Homo sapiens: one gene and its partners. The main gene of each other region encodes a partner of the protein of the gene in region 3 in a complex. Links are inferred from orthologs where the notes say so. Each region holds a gene or a part of one and is shown on either strand. Other genes may lie near its edges. The genes, in order: TNNC1, TNNC2 and TNNI2. A codon is read from its position in the direction of its gene.

Evidence for each region.
Region 1: the proteins of TNNI2 (region 3) and TNNC1 are in contact, whole or in part, in an NMR structure (PDB 2MKP), measured with the Homo sapiens proteins. Residues at the interface, in NP_001139301.1 of Homo sapiens: Arg116, Met117, Ser118, Ala119, Asp120, Ala121, Met122, Leu123, Ala125, Leu126, Leu127, Lys130, His131, Lys132; in NP_003271.1 of Homo sapiens: Asn18 (codon at 1,501), Glu19 (codon at 1,498), Phe20 (codon at 1,265), Ala22 (codon at 1,259), Ala23 (codon at 1,256), Ile26 (codon at 1,247), Val44 (codon at 1,193), Met45 (codon at 1,190), Met47 (codon at 1,184), Leu48 (codon at 1,181), Gln50 (codon at 1,175), Pro52 (codon at 1,169), Glu56 (codon at 1,157), Phe77 (codon at 847), Met80 (codon at 838), Met81 (codon at 835), Cys84 (codon at 826), Met85 (codon at 823), Lys86 (codon at 820), Asp87 (codon at 817).
Region 2: the proteins of TNNI2 (region 3) and TNNC2 are in contact, whole or in part, in a crystal structure (PDB 1A2X), measured with the Oryctolagus cuniculus proteins. The link is inferred for Homo sapiens from one-to-one orthologs. Residues at the interface, in NP_001076252.1 of Oryctolagus cuniculus: Glu5, Asn8, Arg9, Ile11, Thr12, Arg14, Arg15, Gln16, His17, Leu18, Lys19, Ser20, Val21, Met22, Leu23, Ile25, Ala26, Glu29, Leu30, Glu33; in NP_001076114.1 of Oryctolagus cuniculus: Ser13, Glu15, Met16, Ala18, Glu19, Ala22, Lys91, Leu96, Glu98, Cys99, Arg101, Ile102, Phe103, Arg105, Ile119, Phe120, Ala122, Ser123, Glu125, His126, Val127, Glu131, Ser134, Leu135, Asp138, Phe152, Met155, Met156, Val159, Gln160.

The regions. Positions count from the first base shown.
Region 1 is NC_000003.12:52,450,986-52,459,046, forward strand, and holds TNNC1 (troponin C, slow skeletal and cardiac muscles), read right to left. Parts: upstream 3,057-8,061; 5' UTR 3,031-3,056; coding exon 3,007-3,030; intron 1,529-3,006; coding exon 1,498-1,528; intron 1,268-1,497; coding exon 1,121-1,267; intron 874-1,120; coding exon 759-873; intron 543-758; coding exon 406-542; intron 322-405; coding exon 290-321; 3' UTR 115-289; downstream 1-114. Other genes in the region: NISCH (nischarin), read left to right, coding at 4,657-4,749, 6,858-6,941, 7,677-7,859. UniProt on the Homo sapiens protein: Troponin is the central regulatory protein of striated muscle contraction. Tn consists of three components: Tn-I which is the inhibitor of actomyosin ATPase, Tn-T which contains the binding site for tropomyosin and Tn-C.
Region 2 is NC_000020.11:45,824,260-45,832,226, reverse strand, and holds the start of TNNC2 (troponin C, skeletal muscle), read left to right. Parts: upstream 1-4,914; 5' UTR 4,915-4,978; coding exon 4,979-4,981; intron 4,982-7,392; coding exon 7,393-7,444; intron 7,445-7,588; coding exon 7,589-7,732; intron 7,733-7,820; coding exon 7,821-7,935; intron 7,936-7,967. UniProt on the Homo sapiens protein: Troponin is the central regulatory protein of striated muscle contraction. Tn consists of three components: Tn-I which is the inhibitor of actomyosin ATPase, Tn-T which contains the binding site for tropomyosin and Tn-C.
Region 3 is NC_000011.10:1,834,493-1,842,062, forward strand, and holds TNNI2 (troponin I, fast skeletal muscle), read left to right. Parts: upstream 1-4,488; 5' UTR 4,489-4,541; intron 4,542-4,976; exon of another isoform or gene 4,977-5,035; intron 5,036-5,182; 5' UTR 5,183-5,204; coding exon 5,205-5,212; intron 5,213-5,356; coding exon 5,357-5,363; intron 5,364-5,714; exon of another isoform or gene 5,715-5,731; coding exon of another isoform or gene 5,732-5,746; intron 5,747-5,910; coding exon 5,911-5,952; intron 5,953-6,035; coding exon 6,036-6,164; intron 6,165-6,326; coding exon 6,327-6,416; intron 6,417-6,538; coding exon 6,539-6,715; intron 6,716-6,963; coding exon 6,964-7,059; 3' UTR 7,060-7,186; downstream 7,187-7,570. Other genes in the region: SYT8 (synaptotagmin-8), read left to right, coding at 93-125, 602-707, 804-967, 1,394-1,492, 1,634-1,792, 1,933-2,100, 2,264-2,369, 2,465-2,598 and 1 more. UniProt on the Homo sapiens protein: Troponin I is the inhibitory subunit of troponin, the thin filament regulatory complex which confers calcium-sensitivity to striated muscle actomyosin ATPase activity.

The DNA of each region.
Region 1 (8,061 bases), on a different chromosome or scaffold from region 3:
GCGCCAGGCTCTGCAGCCAGCCTGCCTAGGACAGGGAAGGAAGCGGCCATTGGGTAAGAGTGGGTCCTGGGGATGAGTCCACGGCCCAGGGACACCAGAGCCAGATAGCAGACCTTGGGAGAGCAGGCTTTATTTGCATCCCCCAGGACAGATCTGGGGAGGGAGTCGGGGGATTTGGGGTTGAGGACATGGCCAGGCTCAGGTCCTGGGACCCCGACCCCCTCCCCAACCCCAGGACTCAGCTGGAGTTGGAGGCTGGGCATAGGCAGCTCTGGGTGAAGGTCAGCATCTACTCCACACCCTTCATGAACTCCAGGAACTCTGTGGAAAGAGGGGCAGGTGTGGGTTGAGGGTAGGGGCTGGGCAGGGCATGGAGGCAGGAGATCAGCCCACCCACCCGCTTACCATCATAGTCGATGCGGCCGTCGTTGTTCTTGTCTCCGTCCTTCATGAGCTCCTCGATGTCGTCCTCCGTGATGGTCTCGCCTGTAGCCTGCAGCATTATCTTCAGCTCATCCAGGTCGATGTAGCCATCAGCATTTCTGTGGGGAGGGGGCTCAGGGTAGGGCTGTGGGGAGGGCATGAGGCAGCCCCACCCATGCCCCAGGAGGCAGAGCAGGGACACTGGGAGATGGGGCATCCCTCTCCCCTATCAGGCAGAGGCCACAGGGTCCCTAGGCCTGGAATCTGAGACTGCCCTCCTGTACAGCTCGGCTTGAGTGTGGGTCAGGGTCAGAGGTCAAGGGTCACGTGCTCACTTGTCAAACATGCGGAAGAGGTCAGACAGCTCCTCCTCAGATTTCCCTTTGCTGTCGTCCTTCATGCACCGAACCATCATGACCAGGAACTCATCAAAGTCCACCGTGCCGCTGCCTGGGGGTGGGCAGCATGGCCGTTACAGAGGCCAGGGTAGGTACTGCAGGCAGCACCTTCGACACGAACCCCCATGTTCTCACCGCATCCTCACACCAAACGCCAGGCTTGTGTAGCCCTTATGCCCATTTTATAGATGAGGCAACCAAGGCTCGGATAGGCTAAATTGCTCCCAGCTAAACAGAGCCAGCATTCCAGCCCCCAGCCAGCTGGGGTTCTTCTGGAGCCTGGGGAGGAGGGGGCTCACCGTCCTCGTCCACCTCATCGATCATCTCCTGCAGCTCCTCAGGGGTGGGGTTCTGGCCCAGCATCCTCATCACCTTGCCCAGCTCCTTGGTGCTGATGCAGCCATCCTCAGCGCCCAGCACGAAGATGTCGAAGGCTGCCTTGAACTCTGTGTTCAGGGGTTGGGGGGCACAGTAGTCAGGGCTCAGCAGCCAGGACCACGGAGGGCCAGAACCCTGGGGCCACCTGCCAACCTGCCCACCTCCCTCGGAGACCTCTCTGAGGGCAGAGCAAGAGGGACCAAGCCTCTGGTCTCTGGCCTGGGGTCCTCTTCTGATAAGGGGTCCCCATGCCAGCCTGGACCCGCTGGTCTCCCACATGTGTGATAGGGATTCTCACCATTTTTCTGCTCTTCTGTCAGCTGCTCTACCTAGAAAGGAAAGGGAATCTCAAGGCTCAGACTCAGGTATAGCTGCTGCTGAGGAAACCAACCCATTCCACAGGTGAGAAGGCTGGAGCTGGAGGAGGCAGGCTATTTCCAGGCCACAGAGTGGAGGTCTCAGTCCTCCCTCCCTGCCCCCAAAGCCCTGACGTGACCCAGCTGGCCTCACTGCGACTGGGCTCAGGGCCAGGGTGACAGGTGGGCACCCCCTTCAGGACCAAGGTGACCCTCAGTAACAATAGTCAGTGACCACTCAATGCCCTTTCGGCCCCTGATGAAACTCAAGCTGGGTGGCCCGAAGGACAGCTGTCCCTCAAGTTGGGATAATAAAACCAGTGTGGAGGCAGGCAAGCCACCCACGGTAACCTGACCAGGGTGGCCACTGGGCTATTTTTAACGAGGAACAAAGTTAAACCTGGTGATTGTTCTGGGGACTTTGGCATGCAGGGGGTGGGGCAGCGTTATCTGGCCCCCTGGCCTGCTAGTGCCGCCTCAGAAGCCAAAATTAGTCCCCAACTCCGCCAGGCCTTGTATGGGCACTGGGTGGAGGGCTGTCCCAACCCCGGCTCCATGGACTCCCACAGGATAAGCAGGCGTGCCCCCAGAGCTGGCTATAGCACTTCCCTGCCCAGGAGTGAGGGAGGCTGAGGGAGGGGTTCCCCTGGGGACAGCTGGCCATGCCAGGATGTCCTTGCTCTGGGGTTGGGGGAGGTCACCACCACCCAGGATAGAATAGCATCTGAAGACCCTCAGTGACCCAGGAGGTTGCAGGGGCTTGGGGTGACCACTCTCCAGCCCTCATTCCCTCGCTCTCACCCCTAGCTAAGCCACTGAGCCCTGAGCCTGCCAGGCATGATGGGAGCTGGGGCCCCAGTTCTCTGTTCCTTCTTCCTTGGTTCTCCCTCATGTCCAGAACTTCCCTGCCTCAAACTTCAAAGCCCCATCTCCAGCCCAGGACTCAGGCTCTACAGACCCCTCCTCTCACACCCTCCACCCTCCAAAGCATCTTCGGCCCGCCAAGGGGCTGGAGTGGGGTGGCAGATTTTGAGCATGTGAGAAGCAGAATGTGAGGGGCAGAAATGGGGGTTGGGGACAGGGAGACAGTAATGGGGACTCAGACAGCTCAGGAGGAAGAGATGAAAAGAGAAAGGCAAAAACGTCCAGAGACAAATGCAGAGACATGTGGCTGAGCGACAGTGCCACAGACCACAGACACTTGGAAACAGAGAGTGAGACACGATGCTGAAAGCTGCAACCTCCTCCACCACCCTTCAGACCCGGAACCCCCTACCCCTTCTGCATCCTCAAACACCAGAATCACTGTCCCTGTGAGGGCCTGGGTTGAAGGCACGTAGGCCTTCTCCTTGGTCCCCACCACTTCCCTGGGGCTACTAACCCCGCACTCTCAGCTGAGTGAGCCCCCAGTGGGCCTGCCCACCCCAGCCCTACCCAGCCCTGTCCCTCACCGCAGCCTTGTAGATGTCATCCATGCTGGCGGCTCACAGGACAGCTTGCTGGGGTTGCCAGCCGGCCCTTGACTTAAATAGCCCTGCCCCGCTGCATTCCTGGCCCAGCCCAGCCCAGCCCAGCCCACCCCTGCGTGTAGTATCCTCCAGCCCCTCCTCTGGTCCCAGTGATCTCAGGCTGGCCTGAGTCCCCACGTCCTCTGCCCAGGGCAGGGAGCAGACGAACGGCTACAAGGACCAGGTTTCTTTCCCTCCTGTCCCCCACACTCCCCAAAGGGACTCTCTGAAAAGGTTTCTGGAATGAATGAAAACATAAGCCCAGTGCAGGACAGGAGCTACAAAGTCGTGGGCCCCAGGCAAGGTGCAACACAACAGCTCAGGCTCCCATCCAACCAGGTTGGCGGGTTGCCATGACCTCCACTTTCCAGATAAGGAAACTGAGGCTCTGGAGGAGTGGTGACTTGCCCAAGATCTGACTGACTTGGTAACCCCCGCCTTTAACTAAACCTCTCTGGAATGGGGGTGCAATGTGCAAGGAGAGGCTAGGAGTGCAGGGCCCTGCCAAGAGAAGCCTCGAATGCCAAGCTCATAGTAAGATGCTGTGGAACTGGTGAAGGAGGAAGTGACTGACCCACCTTAGGACAGGGTGGCCAGGAGCCCTTCTGCCAGAGGAGCCTGTCCCAGACCTCCCATCTGCCCAGGGAGAAGTACCCACTTCGGGCTTAAGTCAGCTGCTCTCAGTTATTCAACAGCACCCCTATAGATGCCCCATCTGTGGCAGGCTCTTTCCCTCCTCACCCTCCAATTAGGTTACCACCTCCCTCTTCTAGGTCTCATCTTTCCCCGGTTTAGGATTCAGCACTGTAGTTCCTGGGTCCAGATCAACCTGTCTCCCTCGTTTTGAACTTTGGCAGGCCACCCCGTGGGGTTCTTGTGCTCAGTGGCAGCACACACCCCTCCATCCACCTACACCTTCCTTCGTACAGAGTTCGTATCAAGTTTATCCCTCTTGATAAACACGCTCCCTGCCTCGAGCACTACTGCGTGCTGGGCCGCGCATCAATCAACCCACTCAGTTGTCCAGAAGCCCCACTGACAAGAGATCTCCGAATCTCAGAGAGGTTCAGAACTGGCCCAGAATCACTCTCGCCCTGCTCCGGCGGTAAGCACAGGTCCTATTTTCCCCTCCAACCTGCCTTGCCCTAAAGAGAAAGAGCCCAACAGCCAGGTGAGGCACTATTATGGCCTCCTTTATCAGGAGGAGTAAACTGAGGCCAGGAAGAGCAGTGACTTGCTTCGTGTGGCCTGGGAGACTCGGGACCTTCTGTCCCCTCTTCCCGAGGACCCAGGGGCGATGCCCAGAGCTGTCACCACCCGGGGTCTCAGTTTCTAGCAGGCTGTGCAGGGTACCGCCGGCGGCGCCACGCAGGTAGATTACGCAAGCGAGCACCTCGCACGCGCGCCCTGAGTGGCCCCTGTCAGTCACGCGCGGGGGCGGGGCGAGGGCGCAGGAAGAAGGCGGGGCCAAGATGGCGGCGCAGCGCGCGGCGGGGGCGACGGGCGGCGGGGGCCGGGGGGCGGTGGGACGTTGACCCCGCCCCCTGCTGCTGCTAGTCTGCGCCGGGCGGCGGTGGCGGCGGAGACCCGAACATGGCGACCGCGCGCACCTTCGGGCCCGAGCGGGAAGCCGAGCCGGCCAAGGAAGCGCGCGTCGTGGGCTCGGAGCTTGTGGACACTTATACGGTGTGTTGGGGGCGCGGGCACCCGAAGCGGGGGTGGTGGCTGGAACCGGGAGTCCGACTCGGGGGCTTGGGGAGGGGTCCGGGATCTGCAGCCCCGAGGAGCGGGTAGAAGGGTCTGCGATTGCGAGGAGGGGGCTGGGACGGGGGATCTAGGAAAGGGATCTGGGCCCCGCAGGTCCGGGAGAAGGGTTGCTCGGGGCCCGGGGAGGCGGTTTGGAAAAGGGTACGCGATCAGAAAGGGAGGCTCGGGTTGGGGGCGGCATCTGGGGATAAAGGGGGCTTGGGGAGGGGGGTGTCTAGATGAGGCGGAACCCCTCTAGATCCTCTAGGACTGGAGGGGCCCCGGCCTGGAAGACCGTTACAGGGGTCCAGGAGGAAGGCGATGGGGAGAGGGTCTCTGATGGATGGAATCAGGGAAAAGGGTCAGGCTTCGCAGGCCTTGAAGAAAGAGAAGGCGTCAGGACCCTGATCTGGGGAGCCTGAGGTGGTGGTTGAGATTTTCTCTGAGAAGTGCAGGAGAGACCTGGGGAGCAGATGCCTTGGGGGTCGGGCGGAGACAAGACCGGAGGAGGGGTGGAGCCCATCTATGGAGAAATGGGGGTGGTCTCAGTGCTAAAGCGCAGGCCCTATAAGCCTTAGGAATCTTCGTGACTTTGGGCTGTGGGAGCGAGATGGGGCAACAAGCTGCCCACACACACTTCTAAGCTATGGGGGAGACAGAGGACAAATAGCGGGTAGTTCCCGACTTTGACGGGGTTGGATGCCAGGCCTGTGAGCCTGGTGGGCTGCCTGGCAAAAACCGGCCCTGGACTAGGCATAGAGCACCTCCCTGCCTCCTCCCCTTTGTTCCCGCAGGGTAGGGAGTGGGTGGGGGCCTTGGGCCTGCCTGCACCTCCCCTCCCTGGCCCTCATCCTAACCTTCCGCTCTGAGGGCCATTCTTCTGGCTCTTTTCTCCTTTCCTGAAGGCAAGGGGAAGGAATCAGGCAGGATGGGAAGAGGAGAGGGGTGGATCTTGAAGCAACAGGCCAGCCTGGAGAAATGGCTGCTCCTCAGGGCTGGAGGAGGCTTCAGCTCCATGCTGCAGAGAGGAGGGGGAAACTAGGTGCAGGAGGCGGGTGAGGTCTCTAAGCTGATGGCTGACTGGCCATCAGCTATGGGCACATTCAGCCAGAGGGCCATCTTCAAAAAGCTCACCCTATTCTGGACTGCGCCCCTCCTCTGCATGTATGTCGGGGGAGGTGGTGATCTAGTTTGGACCCTACCATCCTCTGTCTCCGGGTGTGCCGAGTTGGACATTATTAACACACCTACCTTTTGAACACTTGCCATGGGTCAGGCCCATGTACAAAGCATTTTACATGCATTGCCTTACTTGGTCCTTGATTCTAAGATGGAGGAACTAAGGCTCAGAGAGAACTTAGGCTCCAAGTTACTTATATAAGTGACACATAAGCTGCAGCCAGGAAATGGCAGAACCAGGTTTTTAACCCAGGCCTTCCTTAACCTCTAGGCCATATTGCCTCCTGATAGAGCTTAGTTGCTACCACTCCCTCCCCACATCAGCTGCTTGTGCCTTGATTCCTGGCTCAGCAGCAGAAATCACAGCCATGAACCAGTTGAAAGGGTTGGAAAATGACTTGCTTCCAGGAGGTAGTCAGGGCACCTGGAAAGAAGTACAACAGAGAAGATGCTCAGGCTAGAACTGGCCCTGCTCTGCCTCCCTTGGAAGAAATGGCCTTGCCTGCAGCTCCGGTTGGGTTTTGAGTTACCTAGAGGCAGGAGGTAAAAAACTAAAGAGGTGACTTGTGGTAATCACCTTTTTCATTCCTTACTGATGGATGGAGCCACATGCTTGTCTCATGTGCCTCCCAGCCCTAGTGCTTGGGCCATGGAGGAAGCTGAGAGGGGCCCTGCTGGTCAGCAAGGGTCAGGTGCAGAGGCTGGTGGGCAAGGGCAGCCTGACTTTGGCCTTGGGGTGGGTCTGAGTTGCAGAGAGAAAGACTGATAAAAGATAATTGGGAAAGATAATTGCAGCTTTTGCTGCTGGGGGAGGAGACTCCTTGTTGCTGGGCTCCCTTGCCACAAGGGCTGTTGGTTTCCCCTTTTAGGTTTACATCATCCAGGTCACTGATGGCAGCCATGAGTGGACAGTAAAGCACCGCTACAGCGACTTCCATGACCTGCATGAAAAGGTAACTGTTAAGAGCTGGGAGCACGTATCTCAGGGCTGGGGGACCCGTAGGCCAACTTTCCATTGTGCCACATATTAGTTTTAGGGCAAAACAGGTTCCATCTCTATAGTTCTTTAATAAACCACTTTGTTAATATAACTGCGTTCATTAATATAGCATGTAAATGCTAGCCTTCAGCTCTAGCATGAGCCACTCTGCAAGGAGCATATTTGAATTTCAGTTTTAATATTTCCAGTCCTAGCTTGGGTATGAGATGCTCAGACAGTTTCCTGGGAAGGGGACAGGTTTGAACTTGTTTGATCTAGCGATAGCTATTCCAAAGCCTTACTTTAATATCTGGCTGTGATTCCATCTCTTTTTTTTGCTTTTGGAGATGCTGTCTTTCTCTGGGTCATTTGCAGCATAACTGTTTTAAAGACACACCGCTGCCCTGATTGGTTTTTACTCTGGCTTGGAAAAGATGGCAATTTTAGGGGCAAAAGGTGTTACTTTTCTGAATGTCTCTAAAGTCTCCAGATGGAATTCCTTGTCTAGAATTGTATTGGTATTTCTAATGCTAATTGGATTTAAAGAGGCCAAATCCCAGGTGCACTAGTTTGGTCACTGATTTTGGTACTACTGCAGGGAGGGGCTGTGCAAGTGCTGACAAGCGCCTGCCCTCAAGCTTCTTGCCTTGGTCTTACATAGGCACAGAGCCTCTTAGTCTGTGGTTGATGTGCTTATGTTTTTTTACAGCTCGTTGCAGAGAGAAAGATTGATAAAAATCTGCTTCCGCCCAAAAAGATAATTGGGAAAAACTCAAGAAGCTTGGTGGAGAAGAGGGAGAAGGATCTGGAGGTCTACCTCCAGAAGCTCCTGGCTGCCTTCCCTGGCGTGACCCCCAGAGTACTGGCCCACTTCTTGCATTTTCACTTCTATGTAAGTTCCTCATCGGGTTTTCACCTGTGCCTGCAAACCCACAACTGCCAAACTTGAGGCAGCAAACCAGGGGAGACCTCAGCTTTGAGGTGGGCTGGGGTTTGACCCTAGGTTAGAAGATGGAGGAACGTCACCCTGGTTAGGAATGCATTGTGGCCAGAAGCATGTTAGTTGACAGATTTGCCGTAAATTAGACTAAATG
Region 2 (7,967 bases), on a different chromosome or scaffold from region 3:
GCAATTCTCCTGCCTCAGCCTCCTGAGTGGCTGGGACTACAGGCATGTGCCACCATGCGGCTAATTTTTGTATTTTTAGTAGAGGTGGGGTTTCACCATATTGGCCAGGCTGATCTGGAACACCTGGCCTCAAGTGATCCACCTGCCTCTACCTCCCAAAGTGCTGGGATTACAGGCGTGAGCCACTGTGCCTGGCCAGTTTGCACAATTTCAAACCTCGAATTACTCTTCATTTGGCTTATGGGCAAGATATTGGGACAAAAAAGGCATACTTCATTCATTAATTCAACACTCACTCATTCACCAACCATTGGTTAAAAAATAACTTGTCCTTCGGTATATGCCTTACATGTCTGGGCACAAAGCTGGTCTTCATGAAACCATGGGTTGTTAGAGCAGGAGGGCCCCTCAGAAATCTGGCCTATCACCTCCATTTTACAGATAGGTAGTCTGAGGCTTAGTGAGGGGAAGGGCTTATGCTGGGTCATATAAACAGTCAGAACTAGGAGATCTGAAGGTTGCGCATTCTCCACTATTATTATTTCTTCTTCTTTTTGCTTCCTTCTTCCTCCTCCTGCTTCTTCTTCCTTTTTTATTTATTTTTATTTATTTTATTTTTTTTGAGACAGAGTCTTACTCCATCACCCAGGCTGGAGTCCAATGGCACACTCTTGGCTCACTACAACCTCCATCTCCTGGGTTCAAGCGATTTTCCTGCCTCAAGTAATCCCAAGTAGCTGGAATTACAAGTAATCCCAAGTAGCTGGAATTACAGGCATGTGCCACCACACCCGGCTAATTTTTGTATTTTTAGTAGAGATGGGGTTTCACCATGTTGGCCAGGCTGGTCTCGAACTGCTGACCTCAAATGATCCACCTGCCTCAGCCTCCCAAAGTGCTGGGATTAGAGACATGAGCCACCGTGCCCGGCCTCTTCTTTCAGAGACAGAGTCTCACTCTGTTGTGAGGCTGGAGTGCAGGGGTGCGATCATAGCTCACTGCAGCCTCAAACTCCTGGGCTCAAGTGATTCTCCCACCTCAGCCTCCCAAGTATCTGGGACTACAGATATGTGCCCACCATGCCTGGCTAGTATTTTATTTTTTGTAAAGGTGGGGTTGCATGTTGCCCAGGCTGATCTTGAACTCTTGGCCTGAAGAGATCCTCCTACCTCTGCCTCCCAATGTGCTGGGATTACAAGTATGAGCTACCACCCACCATTCTTTGTTTTATTTTAATTTTTTAATTGGAGACAGCGTCTCGCCATGTTGCCCAGGCTGGTATTGAACTCCTGGGCTCAAGAGATCCACCTGCCTCAGCTTCCCAATGTGCTAGGATTAAAAGTGTGAGCCACTGCCCCCATTCTTAAATTCTGTATGGATATCTCCCTACAGCCTCCCTGAGAAATGGTCATCTAGCTCCTGTTTGGGTATACTCAGTGATACGGAGCTCATTACCTCCTGAGGCCACCTGTTCCCATTATTGTTCAACTATGACTATTAGGAAGTTCCCCCTTATATTGAACTAAATACCATCCAGTTCAGTTATTCTTATGTAGAATATAATATCTGTTGAACACCTGCTACATAGCAAGTGCTGAGCACTGGGAAATGTGATGATCTGTAGAACATAGAATGGGTTGTGAGCATAAGGTATGCTCAGTGCTATGATTGAGGAAACTACTAGAGACCACCTTGGACTCCCTGGTCTGGACACAGTGGGGGAAGGATCCCCGAGGAAGTGATGTTAGAGCTTAGAAAGATGATAGGGAAGTAGACAGATGAAGAGAGGAAAGATGGGAGTTTCTGGCAGAAAAAAACAGCATGTGCAAAGGCTTGAAGGTTCATAGAAGGTGGTGTTTAGAGTAGTCTTTTTTTTTTTTTTTTTTTTTTTGAGATGCAGTCTCCTTTTGTCGCCCAGGCTGGAGAGCAGTGGCATGATCTTGGCTCAGTGCAACCTTCGCCTGCCAGGTTCAAGTGATTCTTCTGCCTCAGCTTCCCAAGTAGCTGGGACTACAGGCGCCCACCACCACACCCAGCAGCAATTTTTTGTATTTTTAGTAGAGACAGGGTTTCACCATGCTGGCCAGGATGGTCTCGAACTCCTGACCTCGTGATCTGCCAGCCTGCACCTCCCAAAATGCTGGGATTACAGGCATGAGCCACCGTGCCCAGCCTAGAGCAGTATTTTAAAGTCTGATCAGAGCAGACAGCAACATGATGTGGAGGGAAGGAGTGAGATTAGAAGGGCCAATGGGACCTTGCTTGGCTACATTAAGCAATTTGGGCCTTACCTAATCCCTTGAATAAACAAAAGAACAAAGGCTGGGCTCAGGGGCTCATGCCTGTAATCCTAGCACTTTAGGAGGCTGAGGCAGGCGGATCACTTGAGGTCAGGAGTTTGAGACCAGCCTGGCCAACATGATGAAACTTTTTTTTTTTTTGAGACGGGGTCTTGCTCTGTTGCCCAGGCTGGAGTGCAGTGGTGTGATCTCGGCTCACTGCAAGCTCTGCCTCCCAGGTTCACACCATTCTCCTGCCTCAGCCTCAGCCTCCCAAGTAGCTGGGACTACAGGCGCCCACCACCATGCCCGGCTAATTTTTTTGTATTTTTAGTAGAGATGGGGTTTCACTGTGTTAGCCAGGATGGTCTCGATCTCCTGACCTCGTGATCCGCCCATCTCAGCCTCCCAAAGTGGTGGGATTACAGGCCTGAGCCACCGTGCCCGGTCGATGAAACCTTGTCTCTACAAAAAGTAAAAAATTTGCCGGGTGTGGTAGCTCACACCTGTAATCCCAGTGCTTTGGGAGGCTGAGGTGGGCGGATCACCTGAGGTTGGGAGTTTGAGACCAGCTTGACCAACATGGAGAAACCCTGTCTCTACTAAAAATACAAAATTAGCCGGGCATGGTGGCTCATGCCTGTAATTCCGGCTACTCGGGAGGCTGAGGCAGGAGAATTGCTTGAACCCAAGAGGCGGAGGTTGTGGTGAGCCGAGATTGCACCATTGTACTCCAGCCTGGGCAACAAGAGCAAAACTCTGTCTCAAAAAAAAAAAAAAAAAAAAACCAAAAACAAAAATTAGCTGGGCGTAGTGGTATGTGCCTGTAATCCTAGCTACTCAGAAGGCTGAGGCATGAGAATCACTTGAACCTAGGAGGCGGAGGGTGCAGTGAGCCGAGATTGTGCCACTGCATTCCAGCCTGGGTGACAGAGTGAGAGTCTGTCTCAAAAACAAAACCCCAAAAAACCAAAAAACAATAAAAACTAAATTGGAATCCCATGGGTCTCCCTCACCCTTTGGCACCCTGCCTGCCTGGGGGAGGCCTTATTTAGCTTGGCCCAGCCCTGCTGAGCTTTCCTTGGGAATGTCTATATATAGGGGAAGGGGGCAGCCCAGTTGCCACTGTCCATCTGCATTCCTTGGTGTCCAGCCCCCCTTTCCTGGCCCCAGAGCCTGCTATCGGTTGTCTTGGTGCTCTTTCTGTCCACGTAGCCACTGTCTACAAGCCTTGCCTACTCCCCAGTGCCCAGCCTGCACCTTGTGGATTCTCAGGTTGGGCTCCCTCTGGACTTGGTCTGCCCACCCCTTTACTCCCCAGATGACCAGATTTCTTCACTGAGCTCTAGGAAGGGGCCAGCTGTCCTTTTACCACTTAAAGAACCTTCCCCTGCCTACTCCTTACTTCAAAAAAAGTGAATCCAAACACCCTTTCCCTGGAGAAGGTAACTTTCAGAGAAGGATCTTTGCTTTCAATGATTATTTCTCCTCCAAATGCACATCCTCCTCTCCTCCATCCCTCCATACATTTTTCCATCTGGACAGGTGCCCCAAGGACTGTCTGTCCCAACTTCCCTCCAGTCAGGATTAATAATAAGAATCATCAACATGGGTGGGCATGGTGCCTCATGACTGTAATTCTAGCACTTTGGGAAACCAAGGTGGAAGGATCCCCTGAGCCTAGGAGTTCGAGACCAGCCTGGGCAACATGGTGAAACCCCATCTCTATAAAAATACAAAAAAAAAAAAAGCCAGGGGTGGTGGTGCACCTCTAGTCCCAGCTACTCGGGAGGCTGAAGTGGGAGGATCACTTGAGCCCAGGAGATAGAGGCTGCAGTGAGCTATAATAGCACCACTGCACATCAGCCTTGGTGACAGAGTGAGTATAGACCTTTATAATTTACAAAGCTCTGCAGTCAAGTGGGGATAATCGTTGCTACCTCATAGGAGGAGCACTAGATGAGATCATGTTAAAATGCTTAGCACAGTGTGTGGCACGTCATGGGGTTCAGTAAACAGTGGCCTACCTGTCACTTTCTCCTCCTATCCCCTGCCCCTTACCATGGTTCAAAGACGGGACATTCCTCTTGCCAAGCACCAACGCTGTGTACCCAGCACAAGCTAGGTGACTTATACCCGGGTTCCCATTTACCATGGTCTCTCTGTGAGGGAGACCCCACAGACAGGTCCAATCCCACAGATGAAGAAATGGCTCAGAGAGGCACTGCTACCGGCCCAAGGTCACACAACTCGCAGAGGCTGGCCTTGGATCTTGGGTTTTGGACTTCAAGGCTTGTACTCTCCCCATTTTACCATGCTGCCTCACCCTTTACTACTCTGATCATCCTTACCATCTTGGAGCCAGTGTGCTTCCTCGGTCGGGGGGACTCCAAGGCAGTGGAACAGGGCAGGCCTTCCTCACAAGAATCTAGGACGTCAAGGCCTGCCACCTGCTTGGAGGCTTAAATTTCTCTGCAAGGGCCCTTGGCTAAATTAGGTAATGGGTTCAGACTGTGGGAGGGGTGGGACTCGCTGACCCCAGGATCTGATTGGGCAGGGTCTCCAGTGCTGGGGAGCAGGGAGGTGGGAGGGGAGGGTGCCCCTACAAATCCCGGGGGCTAGAGCAGGCCAGGTCATCTTTGGGTGGTGGAGTGCAAAGGAGGCGACCTGCAACAGAGGAGTCCCGGTCACCAGCAACCATGGTAAGGACAAGAGGGGACTTTGTGCCTTTACTCACGGGAGCACTCTGGACCCCTTTCAGGCCAGGCCTGGGTGCTCTGTGGGGCAGTAACTTGGATGTTTGAGGTTGGAGCATGGAGGTTCCTGGAACCCAGGTGTCTTGGAGGAAGGCCTTTGACTTTTCTTGAAAGGGGAGGGCTGGGATATTCCAGAGATTGATCCTTAAGGCTTGCTGACTGCCTACTCACTTCTGGAAACTTCCAGCAGTGTCATTCATAGACCTGTGAAGAGCTCTTAGCTTGTTTCCTTCACACAGTGGGGACTCTGAGGGGTCAGAGTGAGTCACCCAGCAGGCCAGTGGCAGGGGTGAGCCAGAAGCCTGGCCAAACCCTCCTATCATCATGGAGAGAAGAAAGCCTCCTCCAGAAGACGGGAGGCCGGCAGGGCGTGGGGCCTGCTCAGATGCAGGGCTCTGGGAGCCCTGAGGATGATGGGAAGGGGCAGAAGATGACAGACCAGAGTTAGAGAGACTCCGCTCTCCTAGAGAGGGCTTCTGATTTGGAGCTGTTGTTTTGGTCTGAGATCCCCCTCCCCACTTCACTTCAAGGAGTAACTAGATCCCAGAGGCCAGCTGCTGTTGCCCATGCCTGACTAAAAATAGCCTGCCCTCCTGGCATAGGGAAAGAGGAGGAGAGGAAGGAGGGGGAGAAGGAGGAGCACTGGTGGCCAGCTGGCTGAAGAGCTCCTTGGAAGCCTCACCCTGTCCTCACTGCCAGCCTCAATCCAAAGCCTCTGACCCAGATGGCCTGGCTTGGATATGACGTGGAAACCCCTGCAGAAATCTCACTTTCATGTCAAGGCCTCCATCACATTCGGCCCCCCATGAGGGGCCTTTTCTCCAATGACTGAATCCTAAGAAGGAAGCTGACAGCCTCCGACTCTGCCAGTTCTCTGAGGGGCGGGATGATGTGTCTTTTATCTCTTCTTTGTGGTTCCAGTGCCTGATCTGTGGCCTGACATGCAGCAAGTACTCAATAACTTTGTGTTGCATTATTATTTATTTGAGAACAAACATTTTATTGAGCAACTATTAAAGTACCGGGCACCATTAGGAGCTGCAGAAAACTGGAAAATAGTGCTGGAATGGTGCTAGCCCTTTACAAAGCCCTTTCACACCCCTGATATCTCATCCCTGAAAAGCTACAGAGAAAAGATGAAGGCACGCTAATTGACGTGCCTAAGGTCACTGGGGGGTGGGGGGGGTTCCCGACTTGGCCTTCAATTGACAAGTGAGAAGGCCTTGGGCTTAACTTGTTGTCTCCTCTCTTTTGCTCAAAACTGGGGTCACAGGCTGCGCGCGGTGGCTCACGCCTGTAATCCCATCACTTTGGGAAGCTGAGGCAGGCAGATCGCCTAAGGTAGGGGGTTCGAGACCAGCCTGACCAACATGGAGAAACCTCATCTCTACTAAAAATACAAAATTAGCCGGGCGTTGTGGTGCATGCCTGTAATCCCAGCTACTCGGGAGGCTGAGGGAGAAGAATCGCTTGAACCCCGGAGGTGGGGGTTGCGGTTGTGGCGAGCTGAGATCGTGCCATTACACTGCAGCCTAGGCAACAAGAGCAAAACTCCGTCTCAAAACAAAACAAAACAAACAAACAAAAAAAACTGGGGTCAGGCCGGGCATGGTGGCTCACGCCTGTAATCCCAGCACTTTGGGAAGCCGAGGTGGGCGGATCACCTGATGTGAGGAGTTCAAGACCAGCCTGGCCAACATGGTAAAACCTCGTCTCTACTAAAAATACAAAAATTAGCTGGGCGTGTTGGCGCATGCCTGTAATCCCAGCTACTCGAGAGGCTGAGGGAGGAGAATCGCTTGAACCCAGGAGGTGGAGGTTGCAGTGAGCCGAGATCACGCCATTGCACTCCAGCCTGGGCGACAGGGCGAGACTGTCACAAAAACAAAAAGCAAAAACAAAAACTGGGGTCAGAAGCTGGGCACAGTGGCTCAAGCCTGTAATCCTAGCACTTTGGGAGGCCGAGGTGGCAGGATCACTTGAACCCAGGAGTTCAAAACCAGCCTGGGTAATATAGTGGGACCCCATCTCTACAAAAAATTTTAAAAATTAGGCGTGGTGTATGCTATAGTCCCAGCTACTCAGGAGGCTGAAGTGGGACGATTGCTTGAGCCCAGGAGGTTGAGGCTGCAGTGAGCTATGATCACACTACTGCACTCCAGCATGTGTGACAGAACGAGACAAAACAAAACTGTGATTGGGTGCTGTGCGGGCACACAATTATGTGACAAGTTTGAAGTTGTTCTTCTGGAGAACCAAGGGCGCTGACAGAGTGGGGGTTGGGAAGAATGGCTTTGAGGTGAGGAACTGCTCTGGGGCTGCCTCTTCAGCTCAGACTTTCTCTGTGTCTCCTGCAGACGGACCAGCAGGCTGAGGCCAGGTCCTACCTCAGCGAAGAGATGATCGCTGGTGAGTGAGGCGCGGCAGGCTGGGGGCTGGGTGGATGTATGCTGGGGACATGTTGGCCTCTAGGCAGGGTGGGGGTTGGGGGGGGGTAGGTGTGAGGCTGACAGTCCAGCAGGCCTCACCTCTGCCCTCTGCCCTCCCTCGCAGAGTTCAAGGCTGCCTTTGACATGTTTGATGCTGATGGTGGTGGGGACATCAGCGTCAAGGAGTTGGGCACGGTGATGAGGATGCTGGGCCAGACACCCACCAAGGAGGAGCTGGACGCCATCATCGAGGAGGTGGATGAGGACGGTGAGCGGGTGTCCCTCGGAGGCAGGGGATGGTGGGGAGAGGCGGCAGCGGCTGGGCTCAGGCTCAGTCTGCCACCTGCTGCCCGCAGGCAGCGGCACCATCGACTTCGAGGAGTTCTTGGTCATGATGGTGCGCCAGATGAAAGAGGACGCGAAAGGGAAGAGCGAGGAGGAGCTGGCCGAGTGCTTCCGCATCTTCGACAGGTGCGCTGGGGGCCCGGGAGCCGAGGGAGGGG
Region 3 (7,570 bases):
CCGACAGCCAGCCCTGCTCCTCCCGCCATGACCCTGCAGACCCCTCTGGGCTTCCAAGTTCCTGGGGGCTGCAGTGAACATGCTCCACCTGCATGGCTGGCAAACCATGGTGGGCCCCAGCTGTGGTGCGTGCTGGGGTAGAGGCAAGGAAGTGATGGGACCGCAGAGATGAGACCCCCAGGGATGAGATGGGACCCCCAGGCAGGGCCCAGGGTCCAGGGCCCAGGAGAGAGAAGCAGGGAGGGAGAGAGCTTCCTGGTGGAGGACGCATCCTACAGTGGGGGCAAGGGTGCTCTGAGGTCCGGTGAAGGCAGGGACTAGGCTGCCCAGGCCCTGCCTGCTTGGCTGGGGCTGGGGGCTGCTGGGAGGTGGCTGGGAGGCTGGGCCTGGGCAGCTAAGCTGGAGCTTTGGCCAGGGTCCAGAGCCTCCCTCCCTTCAGCTTCCTGCTGCACAGAACCCTCGCCCCTGGCCACCCCGTGCTGCCTCCTTGCCCTGGCAGACCCAGCACTGGCTGCTGCTAGTCAGATGGGGTAGCGGGCAGGGGCCGGAGGGGCCACCCTCCCAGCTGACCCAGCCTCCTGGGCCGCTTCTTCCAAACCAGCAGGGTAGAAAGATGGGGCACCCACCAGTCTCTCCCAGTGCCCCGGCCCCAGCTGGCACCACAGCTATACCTGGGCTTATTCCAGACCTTGTCGCCGGGACCCCCTGTGAGTTGTGGGATTCCCAAGAGGGGTGTGGGGATAACCCAGCCAAGTGGGGGCTGCAGCTGTCCACAGATGCACTCAGCCTGGCCTCTACCCCAGGGCCCCGCTGGGCTCTCATTGCCGGCGCCCTTGCCGCGGGCGTCCTCCTCGTCTCCTGCCTCCTCTGTGCTGCCTGCTGCTGCTGCCGCCGCCACAGGAAGAAGCCCAGGGACAAGGAGTCCGTGGGTCTGGGCAGTGCCCGCGGCACCACCACCACCCACCTGGTGAGGAGCGGCTCCTTGCTCACTCAGTCCAGAGAGGGCTTGAAATCCAGGCTCCAGAGCCCAGGGCAGCGAGGCGAGTTCAGCCCCAGGGATGGTTTAACCCCCACAGAGGCAGGGCGTTGAGGACCTTCCTGGCAGGGAAAGTGGGTGAACAGAGGTGAGAAGGAGGCCATGCAACAGGGGCTGCCCCATGGGCCCGAGGGAGCCACAGCGGGTTCTTGAGGAAGGCAGGGGGTACCCCAGATGCCACGTTTTGGGTGGGTTTGGCCGGTCTCACAGAGCGAAGCCGACGATTTGTGCCTGTTGGGTGGCCTGGCCTGGAGGCGGGGGGTCTTGACCCATGTCATGCAAGGGCTGCCCGGGAGCCCAGGGCTCTGATGAGGCATGATGTCAGCACCACCTGCCCCTTGTCCCAACTCACTCCAGGTGCAACCTGATGTGGATGGCCTGGAGTCCAGCCCGGGGGATGCTCAGCAATGGGGGTGCCTGCAGCTCTCCCTGGAGTTCGACTTTGGAAGCCAGGAGGTGAAGGGCCCCGCTGCGCAGGACCAGCGGTTCTGCGAGTTTCCGGAAAGGGTGACGGGGGAAGGGCAGACCCCATGCCCTGGGTGGTGGGGAGCTGACAGGGCAGGGGCCCTTGGCTGAGCCCACCCCGCTGGCTCCCAGATCAGGGTGGGCCTGAGGCAGGCAGCCGACCTGAGGCCTGGGGGCACCGTGGACCCCTATGCCCGGGTCAGCGTCTCCACCCAGGCCGGACACAGACATGAGACAAAAGTGCACCGAGGCACGCTCTGCCCCGTGTTTGACGAGACCTGCTGCTTCCACGTGAGTCAGGGATGGTCGGCTGGGTGGGCCTGGACGGCTGGATGGGCCTGGGCTGGGTGGGCCTGGGCAGCTGGGTGGGCCTGGGCAGCTGGGTGGGCCTGAGCTAGGGCAGCAGGGCCTGGCTCACGCCGCTGCCTCAGATCCCGCAGGCGGAGCTGCCAGGGGCCACCCTGCAGGTGCAGCTTTTCAACTTCAAGCGCTTCTCGGGGCATGAGCCCCTGGGTGAGCTCCGTCTGCCACTGGGCACCGTGGATCTGCAGCATGTTCTGGAGCACTGGTACCTGCTGGGCCCGCCGGCTGCCACTCAGGTGAGGTGCTGGTCACCAGGCCACAGCCCAAGGCAGAGCTGGCAGGGACCCTGCCCTATGGGCCATCGGAAAGACAGGCCTGATGGGCAGCATTTTCGGGGGTCTGAGCCCCAACTCGGCCAGAATCACCCTCCCGGGCTGAAGCCCCTCTTGCTGCCCACAGCCCGAGCAGGTCGGGGAGCTGTGCTTCTCTCTCCGGTACGTGCCCAGCTCAGGCCGGCTGACCGTGGTGGTGCTGGAGGCTCGAGGCCTGCGTCCAGGACTTGCAGGTGAGGGTCACACCTGCCCACGTTGTTGTACAGAGGGGGGGCCCGTGCTCAGCCCCGAGCCCTGGGATGCCCCTTCGGCAACCTTGCCCTCCCAGAGCCCTACGTGAAGGTCCAGCTCATGCTGAACCAGAGGAAGTGGAAGAAGAGAAAGACAGCCACCAAAAAGGGCACGGCGGCCCCCTACTTCAATGAGGCCTTCACCTTCCTGGTGCCCTTCAGCCAGGTCCAGGTGGGCCACCGGGAGGCAGGGGCAGAGCGAGACCCAGTGCCAGACCACGATGACTGTGGTCTTTCTCCCCCAACTCCAACCTCTGGCCTGTCTCTGCACAGAATGTGGACCTGGTGCTGGCTGTCTGGGACCGCAGCCTGCCGCTCCGAACTGAGCCCGTAGGCAAGGTGCACCTGGGTGCCCGGGCCTCGGGGCAGCCCCTGCAGCACTGGGCAGACATGCTGGCCCACGCCCGGCGGCCCATTGCCCAGCGGCACCCCCTGCGGCCAGCCAGGGAGGTGGACCGCATGCTGGCCCTGCAGCCCCGCCTTCGCCTGCGCCTGCCCTTGCCCCACTCCTGAATGCACCACATGCCTCTGTCTCCCCGCTGAGCCCAGGCACTTGCCCAGGCCGCCCTGCAGGACCACTGCAATAAACGCCTTCTCCTGCCACTGTGTGTCCGGCTGGAGCCTGGAGGGGATGCAGAAATAGGGCCCGGGCCCGCTCACCAGGGTCCCCTGACAAGGACGGGGGAGGGGCTCCTCTCCAGACTCAGCCAGGCCCTGAGGCCTCTGACCGGTCCCTGCTTGACCCTCGGGTAGGGGTGGGGAACCTCCCCGGGGAGCACAGATCTCCCCTCTCCGGGCCGCCTGGGAAGACCGGGGAGGTGGGGGCCAGAGAGTCGGGACCACATGGGATGGGGCGGGCTAGAGCCAGCCCTGTAGGGACAGAGTGGGCAATGGTGTCTGGGGGCTGGTGAGCATGGAGGGAGGACCCCCAACACCTCAGAGACCTGTGCTGCAGGGCCTTCCCTGCATGAGCAGCAGGGGGCAGCAGATGCCTTCGGAAGCCGCTGGGGCCTTTAGGGGCTCAGTCCTGGCCGGATGCCCCTCCCAGTCCCCACACATCTGGGCTGCCTTAGCGGCTGGGGCCTCCACGCTGCTGTCTCCTCTGATCCTCCCCACGGGGCTGCGAAGCCGGCAGGGCTGGGGCCAAGAGCCCCCACTCCGAGAGGGTGCCAAGTCACGGTCCAGGGGACCTCTGCAGGGCGGGGGCCTGGGGGCTGGGGGGGCGATGGCCTCGGGCCTGGGTGAAAAGGGCAATGCCAGGCCTGCCCGGGCAGCCAGGAGGGCCCCAAGCCCCCACGGGTGTGAGAGGCTCCCAATGCAGGTGGCGCCATTCTCCTTAGGTTGAAGGATGTGTTCCAAGTCGCCCGGCAAGGGGACTGCAGCAGGGCGTTCTGGGCAGGCGGGAGGGGCCCAGAGGCACGTGCGGCGTGCCCCTCACTCCTGGTCCTGCTCCCCAGGCAGGAAGATAGCATCACGCAGGGAGGGGGCAGCCCCCAGCCCTCGGCCACTGTGGCAGGGCCCAGAAGGCCACATCTGGAGGTCCAGGCCTCACCCCAGAAGCCAGGCTTGCAGAAGGGGGTCAGGCCTGGGCTGAAGTGGGAAACCCATTGCAGGGGCTGAGCCGGGGAGCTGGCCCCGCAGGGAGAGGCTGTGGCTGTCGCCAGCAAGCAGCCAGGTTGGTGGACTGGACGCTGACCTCGGGTGAGATGGGCTGAGGCGAGGTGTGGATACTCGCAGCTACCCCTCAGCTGACCCGAGCTGTGTGCCCGGCTGAGGCCACAGGCAAAGCCAGGGACACTGTCCTCAGGCTCCTTACGAGAACGACAGAGGCATCTCCAGCGCGTCACCGAGCCCTAAATAGAGTAGCCCAGCCACGGCACCCCCCACCAAGACTTCTTGGACTGGGCGGCAGCACGCGGCCAGGCCAGGCGGCCGGACAGGTGGGGAGGTCTCTGTGGCTCTCCACGCCCCCATTGGTCTGAGGAGGACTCTATGCCCTTTCTGAGCAGGGGCCCAGCCTGGGGGAGGCCATTTATACCCCTCCCCCTGGGCCCACCAGCCCAACTCGCCGCTGCCGGCCTGACCTCGCTCCCAGCCCTGCTGCCCAGATTCTAGGTGAGGCCCAGCCCGGCCCGCCGAGGCCGGGGGACAGGGCGTGGCTCGAGCTGGTTTGAGGGAGGACTTCCTGGGGCGGGGGTCTGGGGGCCTGGGGGATGCCACCAGCAGCCCCCTTTGGGGCCTGCACGGGTCCGGGAGTGAGAAGGAGAGGCTTTGGGGAGGCAGCTGTAGCGAGAGGCAGGTATTAGACACTCCCTGACCACCAGGCTTCACCTCTGGGGACCCTGGAAGGAGAGTTTAGGGGTCAAGAAGCCCCAGAACCTGAGCCCCCAGGCCAAACTGAGGAGGGATTTCTTCCATGCACTTAGGCCCAAAGCCAAAGAGAGAGGGTTAAAAATAACAGCGTCACTCAGGCGGCCACCTGCGCTGGCCCATCCCACCCTCCCTCGGGGACAGCTGCAGCTCCTCAGGCTATGCCTGGGACATTTTGGGAACACTTTCTCCTCTTACTTCTCACCCTGGGGAATTCCAAGACATTGTCCTTGAAGGAGGTGAGAGTAGGGGGAGGAGGTGAGAGTAGGGGGTGGGCGGGAGGGGGCTGTCATCAGGAGCCCTGAACCCCTCACCACCTACCTGATGGGCACAGGCATCACGGTGGCAAGGGCCTGGCCAACACCTCTGTCTTCCTCTCCCCACAGGCTCCAAGCTCAGGACCTCAGGATGGGAGAGTAAGTGGTACCCCTGTACCCCCATACAGTGACCCTGCCCACCTCCTGCCCTGTCCACCCCATCACACACTCCGACCCCGCCAGCCATGGCCCTAACCTCTGTCTTCTCTCCCCGTCCTGCCTGCGTCCTCCCTCCCTGGACAGTGAGGAGGTAAGTAGTTGCTGGGGGCTCAAAACATGACGAGGAGGGGGCTCCCCCAACTCAGCATAGGTCATAGGTCACAGCCTCAAGGCCCTAAGGCCCAGAGAAGATGGCCTGGCCCTCCCCGCTGGCAAAAGTGCCCCACCCACCCACCAAGACGCTGCTGAAAGAGAGGAAGTGGCTGCCCCAAGCCTTCTGGGGCAGGGGAAGTGTGGCTGTGGCCTGGTCACAGGGGAATCACTTCTTCTTTCTGATTCCTGCACTTCCCGCCCCCACCTCACCGGCCGACCTGCCCCCAACTGGCCCTCCTCTCCCCCAGCCTCTGGCCTCCCAGCACCATGTGCCACCTGGCAAAGTGTCACACACCACACAGCACCATGTCCCAGTGCAAGGTCTGGGGCCAGGGAGGCCCAGCCTGCCCATCATGGCCTCAGGAGCCCCCAGGCTCTGCTGGTCCCGGAGCCGGAGCCCCTGACCTGGCCAGGGAGCGTGGAAGGGGGTGGGGGTGCTCCAGGCCTGGAGGCCCTGACTCGACCCCCTGTCCCCTGCCCTGCAGAAGCGGAACAGGGCCATCACGGCCCGCAGGCAGCACCTGAAGGTAGGTGTGGGCTCCCGGGGGGGTGGCCCAGGTGGGTCTGCAGGGGAGCTGGCTGCAGCCCCTCACCGCCTGCCCCACCGCAGAGTGTGATGCTGCAGATAGCGGCCACGGAGCTGGAGAAGGAGGAGAGCCGCCGTGAGGCAGAGAAGCAGAACTACCTGGCGGAGCACTGCCCGCCGCTGCATATCCCGGGCTCCATGTCTGAAGTGCAGGTACCAGCCCCTCCCCGGCCACCCCGCCTCCCCAGCAGCAGGCCTGCCTGCTAACTCAGTTTCCCCACTTGTCAAGAGGGCCAGTGGGGTGGTCAGGGCAGGGGCAGGTGACCGTGGCTGCCAAGTGTCAGGACGGCCGCCCGCCCCCACACCCACCCCTAGGAGCTCTGCAAACAGCTGCACGCCAAGATCGATGCGGCTGAAGAGGAGAAGTACGACATGGAGGTGAGGGTGCAGAAGACCAGCAAGGAGGTGAGTGGTGGCGGCGGGCCGGCGGCAGGCGGGTAGGCGGTGGCCCAGCGGGCAGGCGGGGCGGGCCGGGGAGGCCGAGACCACCGGGACCTCGGGCTCCCACCCGGCTCCCCTGCCCACAGCTGGAGGACATGAACCAGAAGCTATTTGATCTGCGGGGCAAGTTCAAGCGGCCCCCACTGCGGAGGGTGCGCATGTCGGCCGATGCCATGCTCAAGGCCCTGCTGGGCTCGAAGCACAAGGTGTGCATGGACCTGAGGGCCAACCTGAAGCAGGTCAAGAAGGAGGACACAGAGAAGGTGCGTGCCACGGGGGGAGCACCACCACACCTACCCTGCCGGGGAAGCACCTCCCACACCTGCCCCGCCTGGGGACCACCTCCCACACCTGCCCTGCCGGGGGCCCTGTACCACTGCCCCTCCAGGGTGCCATGCAGGGGACACTCCACTGCCCAATGCAGAGGGTAAACTGAGGCTGAAGGTGGTGTGGACCAGGGTGCGTGCATAAGTGGGTGAGCCTGAGCTCTCTCCTGCCCTCTCCTCCACAGGAGCGGGACCTGCGAGACGTGGGTGACTGGAGGAAGAACATCGAGGAGAAGTCTGGCATGGAGGGCCGGAAGAAGATGTTTGAGTCCGAGTCCTAGGCCACTCGCTGCCCCTACGCCTGCCCCGGTGCCCGGCTCCCAGCAGAACATACTAGGGAGATGCACCCAGAGCCTGCCAGGGAGGGCTGGCCTCACCACCACCGTCAATAAAGGATTTGAATCCCCATGGCTGGTCTGGTCTGGCTCTCCCCAGCCTCTTGGGCCATGCTCTGGGCCCCCGCATCGGTGGCCTGCAGTGTGGTCAGTGGCCAGCGGGGAAAGCCTGGGAGGAGGCCACACGGGGCCTGGGATTTCAGGTTGGGAGGGAAGCTGCTTCCAGCAAGGAGGTGAGCCTGGGAAGGCCCCTACAGGGGAATCCACCCCAGGCTGCACGGGGCTGTTTGGTGAGGGCCCTGATAGTGCCCCAGGCGTTCCTGGGGCTCGGCCTGGGCACATCCAACATGCAGGGCTGGGGATGGAGGCTGTGGGACCGAGCCAGGTCTGGGTGGGAGTTCCTGAGATAAGTGGGTCTCACATTTGCACAGCCACGCAAAGGCCCTCCCGGGGCTCC